Linked DNA regions of Homo sapiens: regions 2 and 3 are each linked to region 1. Evidence: fine-mapped expression QTL. A gene starts in region 1. Each other region holds a variant in brackets. All regions are shown on one strand. Distances are between the middles of the regions.

Region 1 (8,177 bases):
TCACTGAATGTTGGTTCCTGTCCCCAGTGAGTGATTTCAGGGACCAGGGAAGAAAAAGGTGCTGTGACACCAGCAAATCCTGAGGGAAGGCAGGGGCTGAAGATGGAGAAGAATCCACAATTCATCCCAGAGGCCTTGGATCCTCTCTCCACATACCATCCAGGATCCCAGTGTGGCTACAAGATGCTGACAAGGCACTCCCAGGAGACTGGGAAGGGTGAGCTGGAAAGGTCTCAGAGACCAAAGCAGGCAAAAGCTGCTGTGTTGCCTGTGACAGAATGAGGGCTCAGCATCAAATTCGCAGATCCCCCTGGGCAGTTGGGGTCACTGTCTTCCCTTTCCCTCATCCCTAAGCTGGGCAGTCACCTCCCCCTGTCCAGGTCAGGCTCAAGAGACCTGCTGCAACAGCCTCGCTCCTGGCCTGACTCCAACTGCCAGCCATGCTGGCACCAGAACGCACTTCCCAACAGAAGTCTGGGACCCTACTACAGCTCCCTCTTTAAAACCCATCCCACAGAGACAGCTTTCTAGTCTAGAGGCCTGTGACTCTTCTAGAGCCACCTGCCTTTTTGCACACGTTGTTCCCTCTGATGCAAAGATACCCTTCTTTGTCTACCAGCAAACTCTCACACATTTCATTCAAAAAGCCACCTCCTCTGTGAGGCTTTCCCAGTCTAACCTGCCGCTCATCCAGGAAAGGCCACCCATCCTGTGAGCGCCCATGGCCCTTGGGCTGCCCCCGACAAGGTACTGGCCCACTTCTGTGGCCATCTACGAATCTGTGTCTACCTCCTTGCCTGCACGAGCCTGGCCACATGAAGGTGATAAATCAGATGAATGAAATGTCATGGACAGAAAGCTCCCTTCTGCTTTGTGGGGAACATAACAATTGGTGCAACCCTGCAGGATGCTTAGGGCTCTGCCCGCTGGTGAGATCAGGTTTAGGACCAGAGTCAATGCTGTCTCTGCCTTCTATTGTCAGTGCAATCCAATGAATGTCTGCACAATGTAATACACACTACAAACCACTTTTTATTTATTTGCACATGTAATTCATTATCTTATTTAATACACCAAATCAGTGGAGCAAGAATTAGTATCCTCACATTTTAAATAAGTTACTTGTCCCAGGCCACAGAGGTAGGAAGCAATGGGGTGGGAGTAAAATCTGGGTCCCTTTGACTCTAAGAGGCTGGATCACTCGCCCTCCAGATTGGTCTCTCGGCCTCCAGCACCACCCACAAGCCAGAGACGGGTTTCATAGAATTACCAACCGCACCCTGCTGTGCCTGTTTAAATCCTCCAGGAGCTCTCCATTGCCTACAGGCTCAAATCCCCCTTCTCGGCCTGACATTCAAGGCCTTGGTGATTTGGTCCCTGCCTTCCCAGCCTCAAGTTCACTTCCAATTCACCACCCTCAAGACCTTGCGTCTGCTGGTCCACCATGCTGACCACCTGTGCTGTTTTCATGCACAGGTCCTGCACATGCTGATCCTTTTGTGGGAGATTCTTCCTGCCTCCCCTGTGTACCCACTGACTTCAAAACCATGAGCAGGAGGAATCTCCTGTCAGGCCCCTTCTCCGGGTTATTCCCACAGAACCCCTCTTAGGACTTGTTTTGGCCAGGTGGCTTTCAGGGAGGACCCAACCCTCTTTAGGAAGTGTCCTCAGTGCCCAGGCCAGCCTTGCTCTGAAAACTGAAGCATGAACTCTTAACTGCATCCCCTGTGTTGACCCAGGAGTTATGATTAAGAAGAAGACTGATCTGGACTTTACCACCACAAACTGTCATTTAAAAAGTAAGAGGAGAAAAGGTCAATCCCCCTCCCTTCCCTCTCCATTTTTGACTCATTTATCAGCTTTTGCCTTTCCTGGTGTTGGAGGAAGGGTAGGTGGAAGCCCGGTGGCGGTTGCATTGCAGCCTTCCTGGGGAGCAAAGTAGTGCCTCGGAATAGGTCAGGTCAGAATGGAGGTGTAGGTTAAACATCAAAGTGTTTCTGGGTTCTGGGATCTGAAGCAGTCAGCCAGAACAGAAGAGGCTATCAATACCTCCCCTTCCAGAAGGGAAACTGAGGCCGGAGAGGGAAAGGAAAATGCCCACAGTTGTTTCTTTCCCAGGTTAGCGGCCTGTGCCCTTCCATCATGTCTGCAGCATCCGACAAAGTTCTAGGTTAAAGACTGGAGTGAGCAGTGGGGAGGAGGGTGTTTACGGTTATCTTTGCGACTTAGGCTCAAAAGCCCAGCAGGCTCCTGCAGCTCTGAGCACCCCCCCCCCCCCACCTCCGGTCAGCCCCAGGCACTGCAAGTCTAGACTTATCCGAAGGGCAGGGCGCACAAAGATGAAAGAAGAATCGAAGGTCTTGAGTCACCTCCTCGCCAGGCCAAGTGTGGGCTGGCGCTGCTCTCCGCCCGGCTCCAGAGGCGCGGGTTATTCCCACCGCACGCCCCGAGCCGCGAGGGAGTTCTCGCCCTGTCCGTGCCAGAGTGACCGCGACTCCGCGAAGCTGAGCAACTTGCCAGCGCCGCACAGGGGCCAGTGGCCGTCCCAGTTGAAACCTGTGTATGTGAGGCTCCCACGGCCCCCAGCCCAGCTCCGGGTCCTGTGAGCCGGCGCCTCGGGCATGCCCAGATCTGGACTGGCAGTCCCCCTCTCCCCTACCGGGTCCGAGGGTTGGCCCCCTACCCCGGGGGCGGGCTGCAAACGGAGAGTGGGTCTCAAAGCGGAGCCTGTCTCCCTACCAAACAGACGCAACTCTGGATCACACTCTTTCCAAGAAGCGCGGGGAGGGCAACGCCAGCCGCCCTGTCCCTTCCTCTCCCCAGCCCAGGGCCGGAGCCTGGGACCCACCGCTCGCCTCTTCCTCCCAGCCGGGGTCTGAGGGGGAGTCCGCACGCTCCGCCCAGCCCCTGCCCAGCCAGTCCCCAGGCGCTGCCGATCCCCCGACCACCAATCCCGTCGCAGCCCCTTGCTGTCCTGGGACCTCAGGAGGGGGAGGGGGAGGGCTGTCTGCGCCCCCGGCCGGGTAGCGGTGGGGAGGACTGGGGCTGTTGCCCGAGGAACCGGGAGAAAAGTTTGGAGCCAAGTCGTGGGCCCGAGGGGACGGCGGGGGAGCGGGGGGGTGGGGCGGCGTTGGGCTCTCGGTGCGCACACCCTCTGCGGACACCCAGCCCAGACACGTCGGCAGGCACCGACCACGTACGCGGAGACACGCGATGCGCCCACCGACGCCCACAGCCAAGCGCAGGCCCGCAAACGTGGACACGGGCGCAAAGCAGCCGCGCAAAGCCACGGACACACAAAGGCACCGACAGCGGCGCGTCCCCGACCGCAAATCCACAAAGACCCACAAACGTGAGATGCACGTGTCCGCACAAAGACCCACACGGCCCCTGGGCGTAGCCTTTGTCTCCCGCAAGACCTCTCCCCTGGGTCGGCGTTCCCCACTCCCGCCCAGCCCTAGGCGTCCGACGAAAGTTGAGGGGCCTCGGCGGGACCCAGCCCCGCCCCTGCGCCCGGCGTCCCCAGCCCGCCCTCCGAAGGGGCCGCGAGGCTAGGATCGGGGACTTGGGATCTTCAACCGCAGCGCGGACTCTCGCCCCGCCCGGGGAACTGCACTCACCTGGAAGCCTGCGCCACAGCCGCCTCGGCACGCTCACCCCGGCGGCCCGGCCGCGGGCCCTCCGGCCAGCGCTTTTCTCCGCGCGGCGCGGCCCGCCCCCCGGTCCCCGCCCGCAGCCAGGCTCCCCCCTGCCGGGCGCCGGGTGGCGGCTCGGGCCGGCCGCGGGGCGGCTCAGGGAGTGTCGCCAAAGTGCCAGCCTCTCTCGGCGCGCGCCCCGCCCGCGGAGCCTGAGCCGAGCCCGGGTTCCACTCTAGGGAGCGTCTCAAAAGTGCGCTGCTCCCGCCCCCTCTAGTTGGCCTCGCTCACAGCTTCCTGCATCCCGGATCCCTGCCCCCTCCCCCTGCGCGCCCCAGCAATCTAAGCAGATGGCCGCACTGTCGGGAACATCTGGAGGTCGCCGGAGTACGTGCCTGTGTATGTGTATGTGTGTGTATGACTGTGTGTGTGGAAAGAGAGAGGGAATTAGTTGCTAGTAAGAAAGAGATTTGGTGGGTGGGTGAGGGCTTCCTCTTTGCTTGTTCACCGCCCCTCCCCATTTTTTTTTAAAGAGTGAAAGAGGTTCAGGGACTACCGGGAGCAAGAAACCAAGAATCTGAAGCAGAGAAAGACTGGCTGAAAGACGAACCCACAGAGAAGAGAGAGCCCGGCTCGGGCAGAAAAGCTGGCAGGAGAGGAGAGAGAAAGTCAACAGATTGAGTTTTTCTTTTAGGAGGAAACCATTGGCTTCTGGTTAGAGTTCTAAGAAGGGAAACTGGCGTGTGAGTAGGCAGCAGTTTCAGTCTATTCCCCCTGCTGTAGCTCTTGGGCTCTCACCCCTCTTTATGTTAAAAAAAAAAAAAAAGGGCAGGAAAGCATCCAAGACACTTTAAAATGAGGGTTTGCAGGAGAAATGACCTGGTGGACGCATTTCCTAGGAGGGGAGAGTCAGGTGTGTGGGTGGCTCCCAGTCTACACACCCCGACAATGCCTACCTTGGGAGAGGGGCAGTTCACAGGTGGGAGAGTTGATAGAGGCTTTGGTCTTGGGCCCTGGACCTCCCAGGAGCTTCTCCTAGACTTTGGAGGGCCTCGGGGTGCAGAAATTGGGCAATGTACCTCCTGCAGTGGCCCAGACTTGTTAACACACCCAGTCTGCTTGCTGCTTCTTTCCTTATTACTTTTTCTTATTCATTAAAAAAAAAAAAAAAAAAAGGAGTTGCTTGGGCCTGTGTGTGCATGCATGCCGGTCTACTTGGGGAAGAAGGAAGACACTAGAGAGGTGGTGAGGTAGGAGTGGAGACCACTGCCCCAGGCCTCAGGCCAGCAAAATCATCTGCTGCCCAGAAAACAAACTGGTCTTGCAGGTCCTTTCTGCACTCAGAGCCATTGTGTGGTCTTGGGGATGCACTTGGGTTGACACCTGTGGACCCTGCCAGTTAGGAATGTGCAGAGAAAAGGCTAGGAGCCTGGTCTCATATGTGTGGAAGCAGGGAGAACTCCCGTCTCTCCTCTCCATTCATTGTCCTCTCCTGATTAGAATCCCAGCTTTCAGAACTAGGAGTCCTTCTGTGATCATCCAGCTCACACTCCTTATCAGTCTTTGGGATGGCACCATGGGCCCTTTGGTATCCAGTGTCTTCCTCACTGTTGGGCTTAAAAGGGCTGCAGGGATTCAACTCCACAACCCCTGGGACCCATAGAGAGGAGTCGGGCCCCTCCCATTTCCCACCCTCCCATTCCCTCCCCTCTCTAAAGGCTCCTGGCCTAGATGGGAGAGAGACCTGCAATCAGCATCGGGTGAGGGCCAAGCTTGGTCAGGATTCAGGTTCCAGCCCTGCCACTTACCAGCTCTGGGTAACTTTAGGCAAGTTACCTAACCTCTCTGAGACTCAGTGTCTGCAACTGTAGAAGAGGCTATTGTGAGGAATAAACAAGGTAATTTAGGTAAAGCATTAGTCTGGCTCACAGGAAGCTCCTTTGTGTGGTTGCTAAATGTCTTCCGTCAGGGACTGGGGTAGAGACTGGAAAGCCCAGCAGGCTTGGGAGGGGAGGGTGCCCGGGAATGACCTCTGGACTCCCTGGCTTGTCTAGCTTATATTCCTCCTGCTTCCTCCCCTCCCATAGGGACATTCTTTTGAAGGAATGGCGCCCCCCTCCCCTTGCCCTAGACTAACGATTTCCATCCTCTCCTCCATGTGGAATTGTTTAGCGAGTCTCAAGTTCAGCATCTGAGAACTGGAGATGAAAATACCCAACTGCCCGGGAACTCAGGGAAGCTAACTCCCACTGCACTGTGTGTGCAGGTTCTAGCCAGCTGGGCTGGAGGCTCCAGGCCTCACATTTAACATAAAAGTAATCAACAACCCTTCACACTGGCTGGTAGCTGGCAGCAGTTTCTGAGCACTTTCACATTCATCATTTCCCTTGACCTCCCCTTAGGGAGAGGTGGCCTTGAGGGGCTTCAGCTGGTGGATCTCCATGAACTTTACCCACCTCCCCTCATCACTGTGCCTCCAGTTGAGAGTCTCTGTGCCTCTAGACTCTCCTCTTCTGTCTGCTGTCCACATTCCAGCAAGAGTGCCCTTTCTAAACTGCAGATCTGCAGAATGGATCATGACACTTGCCTGCTTAAAACCTTTCAATGGCAAAAGCCAAACTGCTTGGTGTGGCATTCAAGGCCTATGTGATATGCCCCCACCTCACCTTAACTCTCCAGCATCAGTTCTGGCCACCCCCTCTTACACATCCCAAGTTTTAGTCCCCTAGTCACCTAGAAGTAAGGGAAGGGAGGTGGACCTTCTCCATTCTTCATGTCTGTTCAGTGTCTTCGCCCCCAGGGAGTCCTCTCTCTGGCGAAGTTGGCCTCTCCATCTGTGATATTGCCATGTCCTTTGTATATAAGCACCATCATTTTCACCGTTCTCTTCCCCTTCTTGTGATCATCTTGGCCACTGTGACATGTCAGGGACTGTGCTGGATACTTTTAAGATCATGATTTAATCCAAACAACCACACTAGATGGATAGTGGTGCGGCCCAGAAAGGGCAAGAGATCTGTCTGGGGTTACATAGCATGTTCTCTGCGGAGCTGGCACAACATTTAGGGCTCCAGTGCTCTTTCTGTTGCCTTTTAATCTCCACAAAGAGCAGAGGTGGTGTAGCAGAAAGGCCTGGGAATCTAAGGATCCCAGGTGCAAACCATCACTCCTCTATCCCTGGCTAACTGTGGACTTTGGGTAAGTCATTTTCTCCCCTAAGCCTCAGTTTCCTTACCTGTAAAATAGGGATAAATAAGAAGCCCTATCTCCCAGGGATATCGGGGTGATCAAATGAATCAATACAGATGCAAATGTGTTATAAGCCATAGGGTGCTGTGTGCTTTTATTTATTTGCTTAGAGATGAGGTCTTACTCTGTCACCCAGGCTGGAGCGCAGTGGTGCAATCATAGCTCACTGCCACCTTGAGTTCCTGGGCTCAAGGGATCCTCCTGCCTCAGCCTCCTGAGTAGCTGGGACTACAGGCACACCACCATGTGCCTCGCTAATTTTTAAATTATTTGTAGAGACGAGGGTCTTATCATCTTGCCCAGGCTGATCTCGAACTCTTGGGCTCAAGCAGTCCTCCTGCCTTGGCCTCCCAAAGTGCTGGGATTACAGGTGTGAGCCACCATGTCTGGTCGTGGTGTGATTTTAATTGACTTACCTGAACAGCCATACTGAAGCTGCGGGTGATCTGTTGGAAGATCTCTTTTCTCGAAGAGCCCTTGAGTGGAGGTCAGAAGACACTATTCGTCCCTTCAGCCGCTTTGCTCATTTTCCATGTTTTGAGACAGGTCTTTCATTTTCTGTCCTTCATTATAGCGATCAAGCCCTGACCAGAAAACCCTTCAGATCCAATGTATCTCCATGAGCCTCCAGGATCTCTATTTTTCTTGCTGCATTTTCTTCTTTTCAGCTATCAGAAGCTGGCAGGTCTTAAGTTAATAAAGCATCAGGACCATGTGTGGAAATAGCAGAAAAGAAGAGCTGGAAGAAAAAGGATGTGTCTCCACCCCTGCCCCCCACCCTGACTCTGTAGATGTGGCATGTGGCAGGTTATGTTTTCTAAAAGTTCCTCTGGTTATTCTGATGTCAGTACGAGGACCGCGGGACATGACAGAATACCTTGGAATTGGAAGACCTTTCATGCATGTTCTCATTAAACCTCTGAGCAGGCTTCTTAGGTAGTTGATTATCCCCTCCATTTTACAGATGTGGAAACTGAGACTCAGAAGTGACTTACCCAGGATTGCACAGCTGGAACTGAAAACTGGCTCACGGACAGAACTCCAGCCATTCCTCTGGAGGGCGGAATTCTGTGCCTGGGCTTTGCTGGTGTCTCAGCAGTCAATGCATGACAAATGCTTCTCCCATCCTGCCAAATCAAATGCTTCCCTAAATATTTCTCTCCCACTCTTCCACCTCCATGCTTTTTCCCCTGCCTGGAATGCTTTTCTCAGTTCAATCTACCAGCTGCAGTTTTCACTGTCCTCCGAGCCCTGCCACCTCCTGCACAAAGACATTTCCATTTCCCGCAGTTT
Region 2 (8,177 bases), 72 kb after region 1:
AGAGCTCCCCACCCAAGCAGTTCACAGGGTTAGGGGTGTCATGAGGGCCTGAGGCCTGCAGGGCAAAGCTGTAGACCAGGGGCGAGCATACTTGATACCCACCATCTCATTAAGCCCCTGAGATGTGGGTGGGTGCTATCATCCTCACTTTACAGATTTGGAACCTGCAGCTCAGAGAACTGAAGTCACCCACCCCAGGTCACAGAGTTGGAAAGTGGTGGTGTCAGGACTGGAACTGGAGTCCATCAGCCAAAGCCCGGCCCTTGGCTCTGCCCGGCTTATAGCAAATGTTTCCGCTCACCAGGCTGTGCCTGGCTCAGAACACACAGAAGGAATGCGTTGATGGGGAAGAAACTGAGCTGAGAGAGGTAGAGGGGTTTTCCTGAGGTCCCACAGCTGAGGAGCAGCAGCAGCTAAACTCTTGCTCTTCCTTGAACAGGGAGACCGGGTGTGGCTGAAGAAGTGTGAAGTGGGCTCAGACCCTGAGCTGCGCCCAAGCTGCCTCAGCCTCCCGAGGAAGGCAGGGCTGTAGAGGGCGCAGAAGGTGGGTGGGGAGTGAGGCTGCTCAGGACACCCTTACTGATCCAGGTTGGTCTCAAAGAGGAAATTATTCTTGCCATCATGATCCTGCCCACTGCCAATGCCTCAATCACAGTGGTTCACTATTGCTGTCACTGTCCCATGCCAGCATCCTTAAAGCCACGTCACCACCCCATAACCCATAATCCCCATAACCACCAGGGCGCAGTGTCCTCCATCAATGCCCTCGCATGGCAACTCATCATGAAGGGACCTCATCCTGCAGCCCCCTCCCTTTACCCATCCTTTCTTTTATTCACTGTTTACTGAGCATCACTTATGTGCCAGGCACTTATGTGCAGTGTTCTGGGCTTTGGGGATACAGAATGGAGAAGAGAGAAAAAGTCCCCTCCCTCAGGGAGATCCTAAGCACCTGTTATCACTAACCACATAAGCATTTTCACCCCCAAGATCATTACCATCCTGAGAGGCACTGAGGGATGGAGACAGAGCATGAGACTTGAGTCAGGAAGATCTGGGTGAAATCTTGCCTCCATGGAACTCTTAGCTTTCCTGTAAAATGGAGCTAGTGATAGCCACCTTCTGGGGGATTATGATTGCAGAGAATGCATGAAATAACTTAGAACTCTTCCTGGCAAGTGGTGTGCTTTTGATACATGGTGAATTTTATTGATATCTCCAATATCACCACAGTCTGAAATAAAGTTCAGAAGGATTAAGTGACTGGAAGTTAAGTTAGGCATTTCCCAGTGGGCATCTTGCAACTATGTGAGTAGATTTTTTTTTTTTTTTTTTTTTGAGACAGGGTCTCGCTCTTTCACCCAGGCTGGAGTGCAGTGGCTGAATCTCAGCTCACTACAACCTCCGGCTCCCGGGCTCAAGCGGTCCTCCCACCTCAGCCTCCCAAGTAGCTGGGATTACGGGTGTGCACCACCACACCCAGCTAATTTTTGTATTTTTAGTAGAGACAGGGTTTCACCATGTTGGCCAGGCTGATCTAGAACTCCTGGCTTCAAGTGATCTGCCATTTATCCACCTATTGACTCATTCACCCATTCACCACCCACCCACCAACCACCCATCTACTCACCCATCCATCCATCCACCCATTCATCCACCCACCCATCCACCCGTTCATCCACCCACCCATCCACCCATCCATCTGCCCACCCACTCACCAACCATGCAAACACCCATCCACCAACCACCCATCCACCTACCCAACAACTCACCCACCCACCAACCACCCATCCACCCACTGACCAATCGCCCACCAACCCATCCATCCACCCAGCCACCCACCCATTCACTCATCCATCCATCCACCCACCCATCTACCCACCAGCCCACCAAGTACCCACTCACCCACCCATTCACCCATCATCCATCCACCCTCCCACCCATCAACCACTCACCCACCCATCTACCTGCCTACCCACCAGCTCCCCACCCACCCATCCATCTATTTATCCATCTACCACCCACCACCATCTATCCATGCATACATTCATCCATCCATCCTCCATCCATCCCTCACCACCCACCCATTCATCCATCTGTCTGTTTTTCCATCCATTCATTCAACATTTCTGATGCCTCTCCATGCTTAGCCTTGTGCTTGGTGCTAAGAGCAGGTGGCCTAGATGTGGATTGCACCTGGTCCAGCCCTCGAACGGCCCCTGAGGGCTGCTAAGGTGCCAATTTCCCTGACAGATGCGGGAGCTGCGGTGTGAGAACGTCGCCACCTGCCTGGGCATTTTCGTGATCTCTGGGGAACCTGCTTCGGAAAGAGGTCCTGCACCTAGACTGGACCTTCAAGGCCTCCCTGCTGCTGGATTTGATCTGCATGAGATCCCTCCCTGGGCCTGGCACTGCAGGGAAGTGGGGATGGCAGGGAGACAGGAGATGCTCAGATTTCCCACAGCTGGGCTCTTTCAGCTTTGTCTAATCCAGGGATATCCAAACTGCATGGCCACGGGTACAGGGAGGCAGGAAGGCTTTCTGGGGCTTGTGGGAATTCCGAGAGAACCAGGTTTCCTCTCATTCGTTACAGATCCAATGGACCCCCATTATGTCCATCTCAGGGCATGAGGTATCTGCACCACCACCATTTCCCTCCTGGCTGCCTCAAGTTCCAAAACTGTGTGGTGGACAGATGCTTTGTGCTCAAGGTCACTGACCATGGTTATGCAGAGCCCCTGGACACTTAGCAGGATCCCCAACCCTGGCCAGCCCCAGAAGGTCAGCTCAGGGATAGGCAGGGGGCTGCCAGTAGGTTTGGGGGCCTCTGTTTAACCAGGTGCTTGTAAGGTGCAGGGAGAGGGAGATCTCCAGTCCTCTGGTATTGGTGACCTTGAGTTGATCGCTTCTCCTCTCTGAACAAGCTGTAGGCTCTTTACCTGTGAATTGGGGAGAATACATGCACCCAGCCTGGCTTGGGTGGTCAGCAGGTAATGGTGGCATGGCCCTGCCCTATGATTGCAGAGCTGCTATGGACAGCTCCTGAGCTGCTGCCGGGGCCTGGGCGCCCTGGGCGGCGCACCCTCACAGGGGACATCTTCAGCACTGGCATCATCCTGCAGGAGGTGCTGACTCGGGCCCACTCTACTGCTCCTCGGGACTTCCAGTGGAAGGTAGGTATCCTCCTCCCCTTTCTTGGCTGTCCCTGGCTAGAGTCTCTGCCTAGTGGGAAATTCTATGGCAATCAGGAAATCTGGGCCTGAAGACCACATAGACACACACACCTAAAGTCTGACCATGAGAACTTGACTTAAACCGGGCAGCCTTTTAAGGGGTGGCCTGCCCCTCCACACCTGTGGGTATTTCTAGTTGGGTGGGACGAGAGACTGAGAAAGAGATAAAACACAGAGACAAAGTATAGAGAAACAATAGTGGGCCCAGGGGACCGGCGATCAGCATACCAAGGACCTGCACCGGCACCGGTCTCTGAGTTCCCTCAGTTTTTATTGATTATTATGTTCATTATTTCAGCAAAAAGGAATGTAGTAGGAGGGCAGGGTGATAATAAGGAG[AAGG/G]TCAGCAACAAACATGTGAGCAATGGAATCTATGTCATAATGAAGTTCAAGGGAAGGTACTATGACTGGACATGCACGTAAGCCAGATTTATGTTTCTCTCCACCCAAACATCTCAGTGGAGTAAAGAATAACAAGGCAGCATTACTGCAAACATGTCTCACCTCCCACCATAGGGCGGTTTTTCTCTCATCTCAGAATTGAACAAAGGTACAATCGGGTTTTATACCAAGACATTCAGTTCCCAGAGGCAGGCAGGAGACAGTGGCCTTCCTCTATCTCAACTGCAAGAGGCTTTCCTCTTACTAATCCACCTCAGCACAGACCCTTTACGGATGTCGGGCTGGGGGACGGTCAGGTCTTTCTCATCCCATGAGGCCATATTTCAGACTATCACATGGGGAGAAACCTTGGACAGTACCCAGCTTTCCAGGGCAGAGGTCCCTGCAGCTTTCCGCAGTGCATTGTGCCCCTGGTTTATTGAGACTAGAGAATGGCGATGACTTTTACCAAGTATACTGCTTGTAAACATTTTGTTAACAAGGCACGTCCTGCACAGGCCTAGATCACTTAAACCTTGATTTCATACAACACATGTTTTTGTGAGCTCCAGGTTGGGTCAAAGTGGTTGGGTCAAAGTGGCTGGGGCAAAGCTACAAATTAACAACATCTCAGCAAAGAAATTATTTAAAGTACAGGTCTTTTTCCAAATGGAGTCTCTTATGTCTTCCCTTTCTACATAGACACAGTAACAGTCTGATTTCTCTTTCTTTTCCCTACAGCCTTCAGCAACTCTGCCAGAATAGCAGCTGACCCACTCCAGGGGCTAAGGACGTTGTGCTCTGGGTGAAAATCCCCGCCCCTGCCTTCCTCCCCAGTGTCACTGCCATGCCTGTAGGTGCTCATGCCCCGCCTGCACCTGCCCTCCATGCCCAGCACAGGCTACACAGAGCTCAGCCCTACTCCAGCTGTGTCACTGTCTTACTCTGTGACCTTACACAAACCGCTTACCCTCTCTGAGCCTCAGTGTTGTCATCTATAAATGGGAATCCAGTAACCAATGTGCCAGATCCCCAGCCCCTTGGCCAACGTGGCCAGGCTGCTCAATACCACGGGGCTTCGTTACCTGCCCAGGCAGGCTCCTTCAGAGCATCTCTGTCCTCACACTTCTGGCTCCCCAGGATAATCACTTGCAGCTTCCCCATCGTCACCTGGCCTGTACACACTTTCTCTCTTCCAGCCCCAGTGCCAAGGCCCAACTCCAAAAATGTTTCCTCCCCTCTGTGCTCTCTGTCTGGCTCCCTGGACCCCAGACTTCTCTTTCTGTCATCCTCCTGCTGCCTCTTCCCAGTCCCAGGGACCTGGCCCTCCACAGACACCTGGCACCTCGGCCCACAGTGCAGAGCAGTGACGGTGCCGAGCTCACCATCAGCTCCCACCCCAGTGGATAATCTTTAATTCACAGGAGACCCAGCCCCACTGCCTTTCTCCACCACAGCCCTGTGAATAATGAGCATTCCAGGCCCAAATTTATGAGGTGGAGGAGTGGGAAGAAGGGGGGCCTTATAAGACCATTTGTTCAACACTCCTCGGCTGCCTCCCCATCATCTGCCTCTGAGGAGGGAAGGACTGGCCAGATGGGATCTGCAAGCCATGCCACCAGTGCAAGGCGCTCCAGGCCTGGCTCCATCCAGCTTTGGGTGCAGGGACCCAGGTCTGGAATGCTCTGGCCACCCTTGAGGAGGCTGTCAGCCTAGGGCCCACTGCTTCCTGCTGTGTGCTTTCCTAGGCCTCAGGGAGTACAGGGCTCACGCCACAGGCTCCAGGGAACACCATCCTAAGCCCAGCTCCACACCAACATGCCTCGTGACTTTGAGTAAATCCCTTTTAGGCTCCAAGCCTCAGTGTTCTCATCTGTAAAATGGGAACCATGATGTCTGCCTTCCAGCGCAGCTGTGAGGATTCAGTGAAATGCTGTAGACAGAGGGCCTGGCATGCAGTGGGTCCTCAATAAATATCTGCAGGGTGATGTGAGGAGCGTGCTAAGGGGGGTCCCAGGCTCTCTCCTGACTCTAACATCTCTTTAGGATCCTGTGGGTGGGGGGTCACTTTGCAGTTCCCAAGGCACTTTCATGTGCATGATTCCATTTGACAACCCTGGGAGGTGGCTAATCGCCCCCCTTTTAGAGTTCAGTGAGGCTCAGAGAGTGGAAGGGACTTCTCAGAGGGGAAGCTGTGGACCTGGGATTGGGTGGACATCCCTGGTCCAAGCTCAGTGTTCTAAAATCTCTTGGTGTCATCCGTGGGGCATCCTCTTAGAGCCCAGCCAGATCCCACCAGAGCTGGATGCTCAGCCTCCTCCCCCAGCCCTCAGCACTGTCCATAAATCATGGCTATGCCTGGGGTGTGGACAGCATGCCTGGCGCAGTGAGGGGAGCATGAGACCTAGCCTGGCCTGGGGCAGGGGTTCCCAGCATGTTCACTTATGAAGACTCCATTTTAATGTCAAAAATGGTTAGAGCCTCTTATGCTACTATTTGACTTCTAATATCCACTAACTGAGAACATACCCAATGATAAAATCGGCTGTGAAATCAGCAACACTTTGAAATGGATTTGTTTGTATTCGTTACAGTGCCATCTGCATACCTTTGAAAATCAGTAGTACATGTGTGCATGTGGTGTATGACTGGTTCCATCAGCACACAGTCTTTTGTAAGCACATATGACTTCCCAGATCCCACACTCGGGGGCCCTCAGGGTCTAACGCCTGTAGGCTGGGAACCTCTGGGCAGAGGAGATCGTGCAGGCTGGGTGCAAACCAGGCCCCGTTCTAGTGTCTGCTTTTGACTGGCCCTATGTGGGTACCTGATTTCACTCCCAGGAGCCTCAGTTTCCCTGTCTGTAAAATGGAATGGTGACTCCTGCACTATCCCCAACAAGAAGCCAAAAAGGGATGGGAAGGGGACTGAAACCCAGAAAGAAATTTCTCCTCCCTGGCTCCAAGGGCTCCCACCTCCCTCACTCATGAGAGGAGGATCCCGGCCCTCCTCAGAGGAGATTAACCTACTCTGCCTCATGACAACCCTTCCAAATATGTAGTATGGTTATACCCGTCTTCCAGGTGAGGAAGCTGAGGCTCAGAGAGGCGATGCGCCTTGTGCGGACTGTAAATGGGTCGTCTAAAGTCCCGCTCTGATCTGTGGACTCCAGAGCCTGAGCTCGGTGTCAGCCCCTCTTCCCCCCAGCCTACTTTAGAATCGCTCGGCTCCCCCTGGCTCTCCAGCAGCCCCCCCGAGGCAGGGGTTATTTCCATCAGTTGTTAGGTGGGGAAACTGAGGCTCAGAGTCATAGCAGAACTAGAGCACTGACTTAGCCTGGTGTGGAGACAGGATGACATGTGGCCAGGTTTTCTTGAGGACAGAATCATAATGATGATGATAATGATAAGCAGGCAGTGTCGTTCACACCTGTGGGGAACCGGCACGCCAGTGTCTGCGTGGCAAGGCTGGAGGAAAGAGCTGCGCTGTCAAGGTTTCAAGATCATTGGTGGGCATTGTTGGCAACAGAGCAGCGGCAGTTGTTGCGGGGCCTGAGGGTGGGGGAGAGTCTGCCAGGTGCTAACATCCGTCGTCTTCCACCTCAGCACTCCTCTCAAGAAGGCAGTTTATTTGAGACCAGCCTGATTAACATGGAGAAACCCCATCTCTATGAAAAATACAAAATTATTTGGGCGTGGTGGTGCATGCCTGGAGGCTGAGGCAGGAGAATCGCTTGAACCTGGGAGGCAGAGGTTGTGGTGAGCTGGGATCGCGACATTAAAAAAAAAAAAAGAACAGAAAAAAAAAAGAAAAAAGAAGGCAGTTTATATGCTCATTTCACAGATCGGGAGACTAAGGCTCAGAGAGGTCATTGTCTTCTCCACCATCCCATAGTATTGTGGTGGCAGATCCAGAATTCAAAACCAGCTCGCGGCTCTCCTGGCCCCCAGTTTGAGACCCTTTCCTTGGCCACACCCAGGGTAGACCCAGGAGAACAATAATGCCACATCCACTGGCCAGCCATACCCTGGAAACAGGAGCTGAGGAATATCCTCAGGCCCAGAACCTGGCACCGCCATAAGCCTACTCTGCCCACGCTCTCAGGATCCGAGGCCAGGCTCCTTTCATGACCTTTCCCAGGACCCCAGGCCCGCCCCATGGTGTTGGTTGCCGAAATCATCAGGAGGGTGGCATCTCCCCCTCCTCTGTGCCGGCCGCTGGTGACCCCTGATCACGGGCCGCCTGAGTGCGTTGGCTGATGAAGAAGTGCTGGGACGAGGCTCCAGAGGACAGACCTAGCATGGACCAGATCTACAGCCAGGTGAGTGCTCCCCAGAGGAGCAGGTGCTCACAAAAAATGGCCCATTCGTTCAGCTCACTTAGCTCAATGCAAGCCCTGTGAGTTCCCTGGGACCTGGAAAGCCATGCAGTAAGGGGCAACCACCCAGCACTGTCACCCCTGAGGTCCACCTTTTAAGGAGAACTTTCTTAGGACCACAGGTTCCAGGGACGTTTGTCCCATGCCTTCCTGAGTGTCAAGCCCCATGCTGAGGGCCATGCTCC
Region 3 (8,177 bases), 27 kb after region 1:
CAGTTTTCTCATCTATAAAATAGGGGTAATGATACGCTATTCTATCTTCATCAGATTGTAATGAGAATTACATGAGATGCTGTGTGGGAAGCATTTAACACGAGGCCTGGCAGAATACTCTGCTGTGGTTGTCATCTCTAGGGTTAGGATATAGGTCTCTTTGGTATGAGAGAGCCACACTCAGGGAGAGTAAATGGCAAGGTGTCCCCAGGGAGGAAAAGACCTGGACAGTGACCAAAGTTGCCTTGTGTTGCAAACAGTCTGTGGGGAGTTCTTTGTTTTCATTCTTATCCCACAGAGCTACTCCATTTCTACACTCTCTAATCACCTTTAAGCTTCAGATAAACAACAGAAGAGTAGAGAGAACTGCCTGGCCCTTTTAATCTCCTTGAATCTCCACCCCACTCTCCTCCACAATGCACTGGCCATGGGAGGCCTTTGTTAGTTGGAATGGCAGAATGGCTTCCACTGCATCTGGGAGGATGCTGGGGCCTCCAGGTGGGCTGACTTCAGTAGCACCAATACCATGCTTCCAGGGGCAGTGCTGAATTCTTAAAGCTCATCCCTCATCTCTTCCCTACTTTGTCCTGTTGCAGTCTGGCACACACACCAACCCCATTGACCATGACTTCCTTAAGGTCCCCACAGCTCCCTTATCAAGTCTGGTGGACACATCCTGCTCAGTCTTGACTAACTGGCCCTCTTAGTGCCTCTGGTGCTCTATGCCTGCCTCTGCCTCAGATGCTCCCCTTGGCACCCATGTGATTTGCTTCCTTTCCTCTTGCCGGGTCTTCCCTCTTCTCTAGGCTGCACCTCCTCAGTTGCCTCTGAGGGCTCCTCTGTCTCCGTGGCATCCTCATTATGGCTGTATCCATGGCCTGGCCCTGGTCCCTACCTTCCTCACTCCACACCCTCTCCACCTTCTTCAGCCCAGAGCCTTGCTGCCTAGCTCCCCAGCTCCCCAGCTCCAGACCCACTGCTCTCTAGCCTTAGGACAGCTCCACTGGGATGTCCCTATGCCCTTCACACTCAGCCTGTGCAGAGAGGGACGGCCGAGACCCAGGCCTGCTCCTGCCACCTCCTTGCTCAAAACCCTCCATCTACAAACACTTGAGAAAATGATTTGGCGTCACATATTCAAGTTGAACATGCGCATGCTCTCCAACCCACCAAGTCTACTCCTGGGAATATACCCAACAGGCATGTGTACCAAAGACGCATGCAAGGATATTCAGAGCACTATGCATAATAGCCAAGAACTGGAGACCACCCAGTGCCCATCAACAGACAGTGGCGGATTCACACAATGGAGTGCTACAAGCTACGGAGATAGCTGCAATATTGAGAAATCTCACAGACGTCCTGTTGAACAACAGAACACGACACAGTTCATACTGTACACTTGCATTTATAAAGTTCAAAAAACAGGCAAAACAAACCTGTGGTACCAGAAGACAGGACAGTGGTCAGCCTTGGGGGCACATAGTAACTGGCAGGGACCCGCAGGGGCTTCTGGGTGCTAGACGCCTGACAGATTTTGATCTGGATGTTGGTTCCATGGGTATATTCCTTGTGAAAATTTACCAAGATGCATACTTATGATAGGTGAATTTTTCTGTATATGTATTACGCTTCAATAAAAGGCTAAAATAAAGAAATAAATAAAATCTTCCATGAGTCTTGATTGCATTCAAGATAAAACCTGCAGACTCCCTTCTAGACTGGTAAATGCAAGGCCCTTCATGACCTGGCCCCTGCCTTGCTGCCCTCCTCTCACTCCACCCGCCCCTTCTCCAGCCCTCACAGTAGCGAGGTGATTGCCACTCCCTGAAAGCGAGATGCTATTTTCAGCTTCTGGGCTTTAGCACGGCTGTTCCTTCCGTCTGGAATGCCCTTGCCAGTCTATTCCATCTGGCTACACCCAGAGATCCCTCAGGACTTTCTCAGCTCCCCGGACCATGAGTTACCACCTCAGCTCGCTCCATAGTTGTTGGTTTGAACCTCTGTTCCAGTGTCTGCTCTTCTGCTGGCTATGGTTGTCGCCCACCTGTCGTCCTGCCCTATGGCTGTGAATGCCATCTTGAAGAGACTATGTCTTTGTTCTGGTATGTCCAGCAAGAGCTCATGGCCTGGGACAGGGTTAAGTGTCAATAAGGCATAAAAATGAAACCATATGCAGTCACACACTCAACAAACCATTTCCTTGAAAAGAACAGAATGATGTGTAGGGAGTACACACTTTTGTTATATAGATTCCGGTTAATGCAATGTTTTAATATTTAGAATCAGGATGTCCCTGGGAAACCTGGGCAGTCTGGTTGCCGTGGGCTTTCTTGTCACAAGGGAACCCAGTGATAGGCTAATTCATACTATAGCATGAAGAGCTAAATATACCTGCATTTCACAGGAAGAGCCCCGAAAAGGCAATGTTTTCCATAGTGGAATGGTGTATACATATGGTGGCATTTCAGGCATAGTGGCTTCTTAGAGAGCACTTTCCTTCTTAGGATGGATGCCGTCTATATGCACTTGAGTGGTTCTCTAGAATTCAGATGAGCAGTGGGTGCTCTCCCAGAAGGAGGGCCCTGTAAGGAATTAAGTTGTATTTTATTTAACAAGAAGCGTAATAGGCAGAAAATGACCTTGGATTTCCTGAATGTGGCCTTCCTTACAACGTTGCTGCAGGGCAGGCCCCCACAGTCCTAGGAGAGTGAGGGGTCACTGGAGGAACAGGGGTGGGTCAGGGTTCTCGAGAAAGCAGACCCCAGAAGCAACCTGCATCTTGGACTCTGGGGTTGCCTGGGAATGAAAAACGAGAATGGGGTCCCCCTAATAGCTGCAACACCATATGCTTAGGCTGTCAGGGTACAAGGGGTTGGTAAGGGGTGAGGTTGCTGCTGGAGGATTTGTATTCTTCTCAGCTCGTGGGAAACACAGCCACCCTTTGAACGGGGTGGGCAGGGAAGCATGGAGAAAAGCCATGCCTGGGTGGGGACAGCAGTGTGGGCAGGGAATGGGAGTGTAATTAGAGTGTAATTAAAGTATTTTGTGGGCTGAAAAGGAAAAGCTGCCAGGCCCCTGAGCCAACCCAGAGGAGAAGAGGGAACAGAAGTCTTATCATTGAGAGAATGGTGGCGCCAGCCTCCACCCAGCCAGGACCACCCACGGCCAGGGGCCACGCAGGCAGAGCTGCCAGGCAAAGAGACCAGGTGCACCCTTATCTGAGCTTGGCATGGAGGTAGTGGGATGATCCCTCAGGGGACCACGATGGCCTGGCAGAGGGCCCTGCTGCAGCTGGCAGGACCAAGTTTCCATGCGGTGCTGCTGGTGGCTGGGAGGAGTGATGGCCGCAAGGGTTCCTTGGACACAGGTGCTGGCTCACTGGCTGGGAAGGTTGAACTAAGTCCCTTTCCCACTGTGTGGGGGACAATTCAGGGGGTCTCTCCCCAAGAGAGATAAGATTGGAGATCTGAGCAAATTTTAATTTTAATTTAGAAAAAAAAAATAAAGCACAATGGCCCTAAAGAATTAAGTCAGCTACATTTGACCACATATCAATTAAGAACTTTTTTTGTAATAAGAGACAGAATAGTGTTAAGACGTAAATGACAAATCAAGAGAAATATTTGCCCCGTGTATAAGAAGAGATCAATGTCTGGGCAATAGAAACAGCTCCTGTAAATCAATAAGAAAAGACAGACAAAATAGAAAACTGGGCAAAGTGTTTGAATAGGAAAGTCGAAAAGGAAATAAAAAGGATGTATACATGCAAAGATGCCCTCCTTACTGGTCATCAGGGAAATGGAAGTTTAAAAGGAACATGAGCAGGGCGTGGTGGCTCATGCCTGTAATCCCAGCATTTTGGAAGGCCAAGGTGGGAGGATTGCTTGAGCCCAAGAGTTTGAGATCAGCCTGAGCAACATAGGGAGACTTCATCTCTATCAAACAAATAAATAGATAAATAAATAAATGAATAAATAAAAGGAACATAAATCAGAAATTCGTTTTTGCCTATAACATTGACACATTTTGAAAAATATTGATGATAGTAAATGTTGATAAGAGTTGCTGGCCATGTAAATTGGCGTAGCCTTTTTGGAGGCCATCTGATAGACTCTATTACAAGTTTGTCCACCCTGTGGCCCACGGGCCGCATGTGGCCCAGGACGGCTTTGAATGAAGCCCAACACAAATTCATAAACTTTCTTAAAACATTTTTGTGAATTTTTTTTTACCTCATCAGTTATCGTATTAGTGTATTTTTTTTTTTTTTTTTTTTGAGGCAGAGTCTTGCTCTGTCGCCAAGGCTTGAGTGCAGTGGCGGGATCTCGGCTCACGGCTCACTGCAACCTCTGCCTCCCAGGTTCAAGCAATTCTCCTGCCTCAGCCTCCTAAGTAGCTGGGATTACAGGCGCCCGCCACCATGCCCAGATATATATATATATATAATTTTTTTTGTATTTTTTTTAGTATTTTGTATTTTTAGTAGAGACGTTTTTGTATTTTTAGTAGAGACCATGTTGGCCAGGCTGGTCTCGAACTCCTGGCCTCAGGTGATCCACCCACCTTGGCCTCCCAAAGTGCTGGGATTACAGGCGCCCCCCACCATGCCCAGATATATGTGTATATATATATATATATATATATATATATATATATATATATATAGTATTTTTTTTAGTATTTTGTATTTTTAGTAGAGACGTTTTTGTATTTTTAGTAGAGACCATGTTGGCCAGCCTGGTCTGGAAATCCTGGCCTCAGGTGATCCACCCACCTTGGCCTCCCAAAGTGCTGGGATTACAGG[C/T]GTAAGCCACCACGCCTGGCCAGTGTTAGTGTATTTTATGTGTGGCCTAAGACAACTCTTCTTCCAGTGTGGCCCTGGGAAGCCAAAAGATTAGACACTCCTGCTCTATTAGAATTTAAATACACATATCTTTATGTATTTGACCCAGCAATTCACCTCATGATATCTACCCCAGAAAAACACCTGCATATGTGCACAAAGAGGAAAGTACAGGATATTTATTGTAGTACTGTTTATAATAGTGAAAAATAGGAGGAAAATGTACAAGAATAAGAAGTGGTTAAAAATTCCAACACAAATTAGTCAGGCATGGTGGCGTGCACCTCTAGTCCCAACTACTAGGGGGACTGATTGGGGGAGGATGGCTTCAGCCAGGGAGGTGGAGGTCATGGTGAGCTGAGATTGTGCCACTGCACTCCAGCCTGGGCAACAGAGCCAGGCCCTGGCTCAAAAAAGAAAAACAAAAAACTCCAATATATTTATACTATGGAATGCCACTGAGCAACAAGGCAATGCAGCCCTGTAAACTTAGACTTACAATGTGGCCCAAGAGAGGGAGGCCTGAGCGTCAGCTTCCCTGGGCTGGCCTGTCCCAAGGGCACCAGGAGGCTGAATTGAGGGCCAGTGAACCAATAGGCCTGAAAGGGTAAAGGGCCCGGGCGGCAGAGGCCGATGAGAGCCCACTGGGCAGGGGGATTGATGGGGACCAGGGCAGAGACTGTGGGTCTGCAAGCACCAGGAGCCCAAGCGCAGTCAGATTGGCCAGGGCCACCACTGGAGGAACGGCCTGGGCTAAAGGAAGGCCCTGAGCTCCTGAGCTGGAGACCCCATGGGAGAAACCAGCAACTGGACAGGCGCAGGATGGCCCTGGAGAGGCAGTGGCACTGACTGCATCTGCCGGTTCAGGACGATCGGCCTGCCTGGCTGCTCCCACTAAAAACCCTTTCCCCCACCACTCCTGATGCTCCCACACAGCTGAGAGGCAGGTGAAAGGGGAAGCGACCTGAGGGACAGGACGTTTTTATACAAGACAGACTGATATTACCTAGACAGCTTCAATGATCAGATCAGACCAAACTTTCAACCAAATTAGATGGCATTCTGTAACTTTTTCCCGCCAACCTGGGGTTAGGGCAGGGAGGGAGGAGTTTGGGAGGAAAGTCAGATTAGTAACACATAAAATCACAGCTTCCCTGTGCACTGGAGAGTAAAGTGAGCTGAATTTGATGACTCCCCCCACCAGTGTGACACACTTTGGTCATTTGGCCTTCCCAGCTTGGCATGCCCTCCCTCCCTGCTCCTCCTGGTCGGTTCGGTTTAGCCCTGGTATCCCTCCTCAGGGAGTTGCCTTTGAATCCCCCAGAATGACCTTCACACCCCTGGGCTTCTCTGCATGGTGGCATTTGGCACACTGTGTAGTCACATCCATCTTCCCCACAGACTGTGGGCTCTGGGGCAGAGACTATCTAATGCTCATCTATGTTCCCTTAGAACCTAGCACAGTACTGGACTCAGTTAATGTTTGCTGAATCAATGAGTGCATAAATGAATGAATGATGACATGACCTGAAAACTGTGACCTTGGGTCTTCACTTCCCTTCTCTAGGGCTCTGTTTTCCTAGAGGTGGGGTTGGGGAGCTGGCCTTCTCTGATCAACCTGCCCAGTCCAGGCCTTCTCCAGAAGAGCCCCAAACTGCCAGACTCTCTCTTTTCCCCACTGAAAAATTCCAGACAGGAGAGCCCAGTCTACTGCAACCTCCCTGCCCCCTCTGCCCACTCACATCTTTTTCAAATCCCGCCGCTTCCTCTCTCTAGACGTGGCTCATGTCTGGCTTCCTCCCAACGCCCTCATCCTTGAGGGACCTGACAGCTTCCAGATGGGTGCGGTCACTGCCTCCTTCCCGGAGTCCAGCAGGCAGGCAGCCCGGCCCAGCGGAGGAGCTGCCCAAGGCCTCTCCCTGCCCCTGGGGGAAGTCCCTCTCACGTCCTTTCGCGTCCTTCTCTGCGTCGTCCGGGCCCTCTGACCCTGCTCCCCTCTCCATTCTCTCCGTGTGGCTCTGTCTCTCGGGCTGGGCGTCTCTGGCTTTGTCTTTGTTGCCTTTTCTCTCTTGTCTCTGTGTCTCTACTCTCTCCCAGTACCTGTGTCCCCCACTCCTGCCCTCTCTCCTTGTCTGTTTTTCTACGTCTTTCTCTCCCCTCTCCAGACTCCTCCTTCCTCTCCTCTGGCCTTCCCCTCCCCAAGCCTGGCTGATGGGTGGTTGTTTCTCCAAACCAGGCCCGCCTCCGAACCTGCCCTGACCAGCCTGAGTCCCCTCTCCCACCCCACCTCCTCCACACACCTCTGTCGGGTGTGTGCCCCAGGACAGTCGGGGGAGTGTACTGGACCCACAACATCCCAGCGCTGCCTTCCCAAGGGGGAGAAGGGACTGACTGTGACCCATGGCCAAGGTCATCTGAGCTTAGCTGGCCTAGAGATGCCCCACCCCTACCCTGCATGAAGTAGCCTGGTCCCTTCCAGGCCCTGACTGCTCCAGTGCCTGGCGAGGGAGCAGCCCTCAGAACCGGGGCTGCACTTATGCCCCCACCCCCAAACATACACACACCGGGGAATGCTTTCCTCTGCTGCCTTTCCCCCGCAGAGCCCGCTGGGAGCTGGGCTGTTAGATAGCTCGCTGCTTCAGTTTTCACCCCAGAACCCAGCCCGAGGGATATAAGAGAACCCAGGCACGAGAGGGCAAGGCAGAGAAAGGAAAAATGGGATGGAATGTGAACCCTGAGGTGGGAATCTACAGGTTAGATTCAGCCCTGTGGGATCCTAGGCTCTGCCAATGGGAGGCTTCAGACAAACGATTTCTTTTTTCTGAGCCTCTGTTTTTAACTTGTAAAGTGGTACAGCAGATTCCCTCCTGGTACACTGTTATGGGAATTACATGTTAAGACATGGATAAAACCTCCAACACTGAAGGCTCTTGATAAATGTTACTCGAGAGGGAATCTGAATGCCTGACAAAGGAATAAGCCAGGAGTCAGGAGATCTGTGTTCAAATCCCATCTATGCCTTCTGTGGCTGGCCAGGGGGGATGCTCAAAAAGAATTGAATAGTAAACAAATGAAGGGAAAAGGAGATGATGAATGACTGAATCTCAATCGCTGATCACCTGTGGCTTTGCATATATCAGATTCTCAGGAAAATGGAGACGTAAAACTTACCTTGCAAACTTGCGAAGAGAATGAAATTGAATAAGGAATGTGAAAGTGCACAGTCAGTGCTCATACACATTTGCCCTTATATAAATTATGATAATCCTAGTGCAAGACTTAAAATAAAAAATTAAGAGTCACAAAATGCTGGGGCAGTTGCCCTACTTAA

Alleles and levels. Alleles are on the strand shown, and positions count from the first base shown. SD is a standard deviation of normalised expression in the study named.
For the expression in adrenal gland of the gene that starts at base 3,669 in region 1, G is the low allele of the variant in region 2 and AAGG is the other (small effect, 0.37 SD a copy in GTEx).
For the expression in fibroblasts of the gene that starts at base 3,669 in region 1, allele T in region 3 goes with a lower level than allele C (small effect, 0.27 SD a copy in GTEx).

What was found. PIP is the estimated chance that this variant, and not a neighbour inherited with it, causes the effect. A credible set is the group of variants that fine-mapping cannot tell apart.
Region 2: its variant is the best candidate, but not a certain one, in a credible set for the expression of TSKU in adrenal gland (GTEx, PIP 0.76).
Region 3: its variant is the best candidate, but not a certain one, in a credible set for the expression of TSKU in fibroblasts (GTEx, PIP 0.79).

Annotation. Positions count from the first base shown.
Region 1 is chr11:76,778,848-76,787,024 of GRCh38, reverse strand. TSKU (tsukushi, small leucine rich proteoglycan) reads right to left here and starts at 3,669. Exons shown (of 2, transcript NM_015516.4): 1 at 3,621-3,669. It overlaps TSKU-AS1 (TSKU antisense RNA 1), which reads left to right and starts at 3,963. Exons shown (of 2, transcript NR_120562.1): 1 at 3,963-4,022; 2 at 4,169-4,444. RefSeq lists enhancers at 54-976, 3,364-4,008, 4,243-4,432 and a silencer at 3,723-3,812.
Region 2 is chr11:76,707,263-76,715,439 of GRCh38, reverse strand. It overlaps the pseudogene GUCY2EP. Among named protein-coding and RNA genes, the nearest start is that of LRRC32, 41 kb to the right of the region's middle. RefSeq lists enhancers at 4,826-5,327, 6,976-7,476. The variant AAGG/G (reference allele first, on the strand shown) is at 3,573.
Region 3 is chr11:76,751,516-76,759,692 of GRCh38, reverse strand. LOC105369397 (a long non-coding RNA gene) reads right to left here and starts at 7,032. Exons shown (of 4, transcript XR_950337.3): 1 at 6,589-7,032; 2 at 2,395-2,585; 3 at 1,971-2,129; 4 at 1,393-1,644. The variant C/T (reference allele first, on the strand shown) is at 4,808.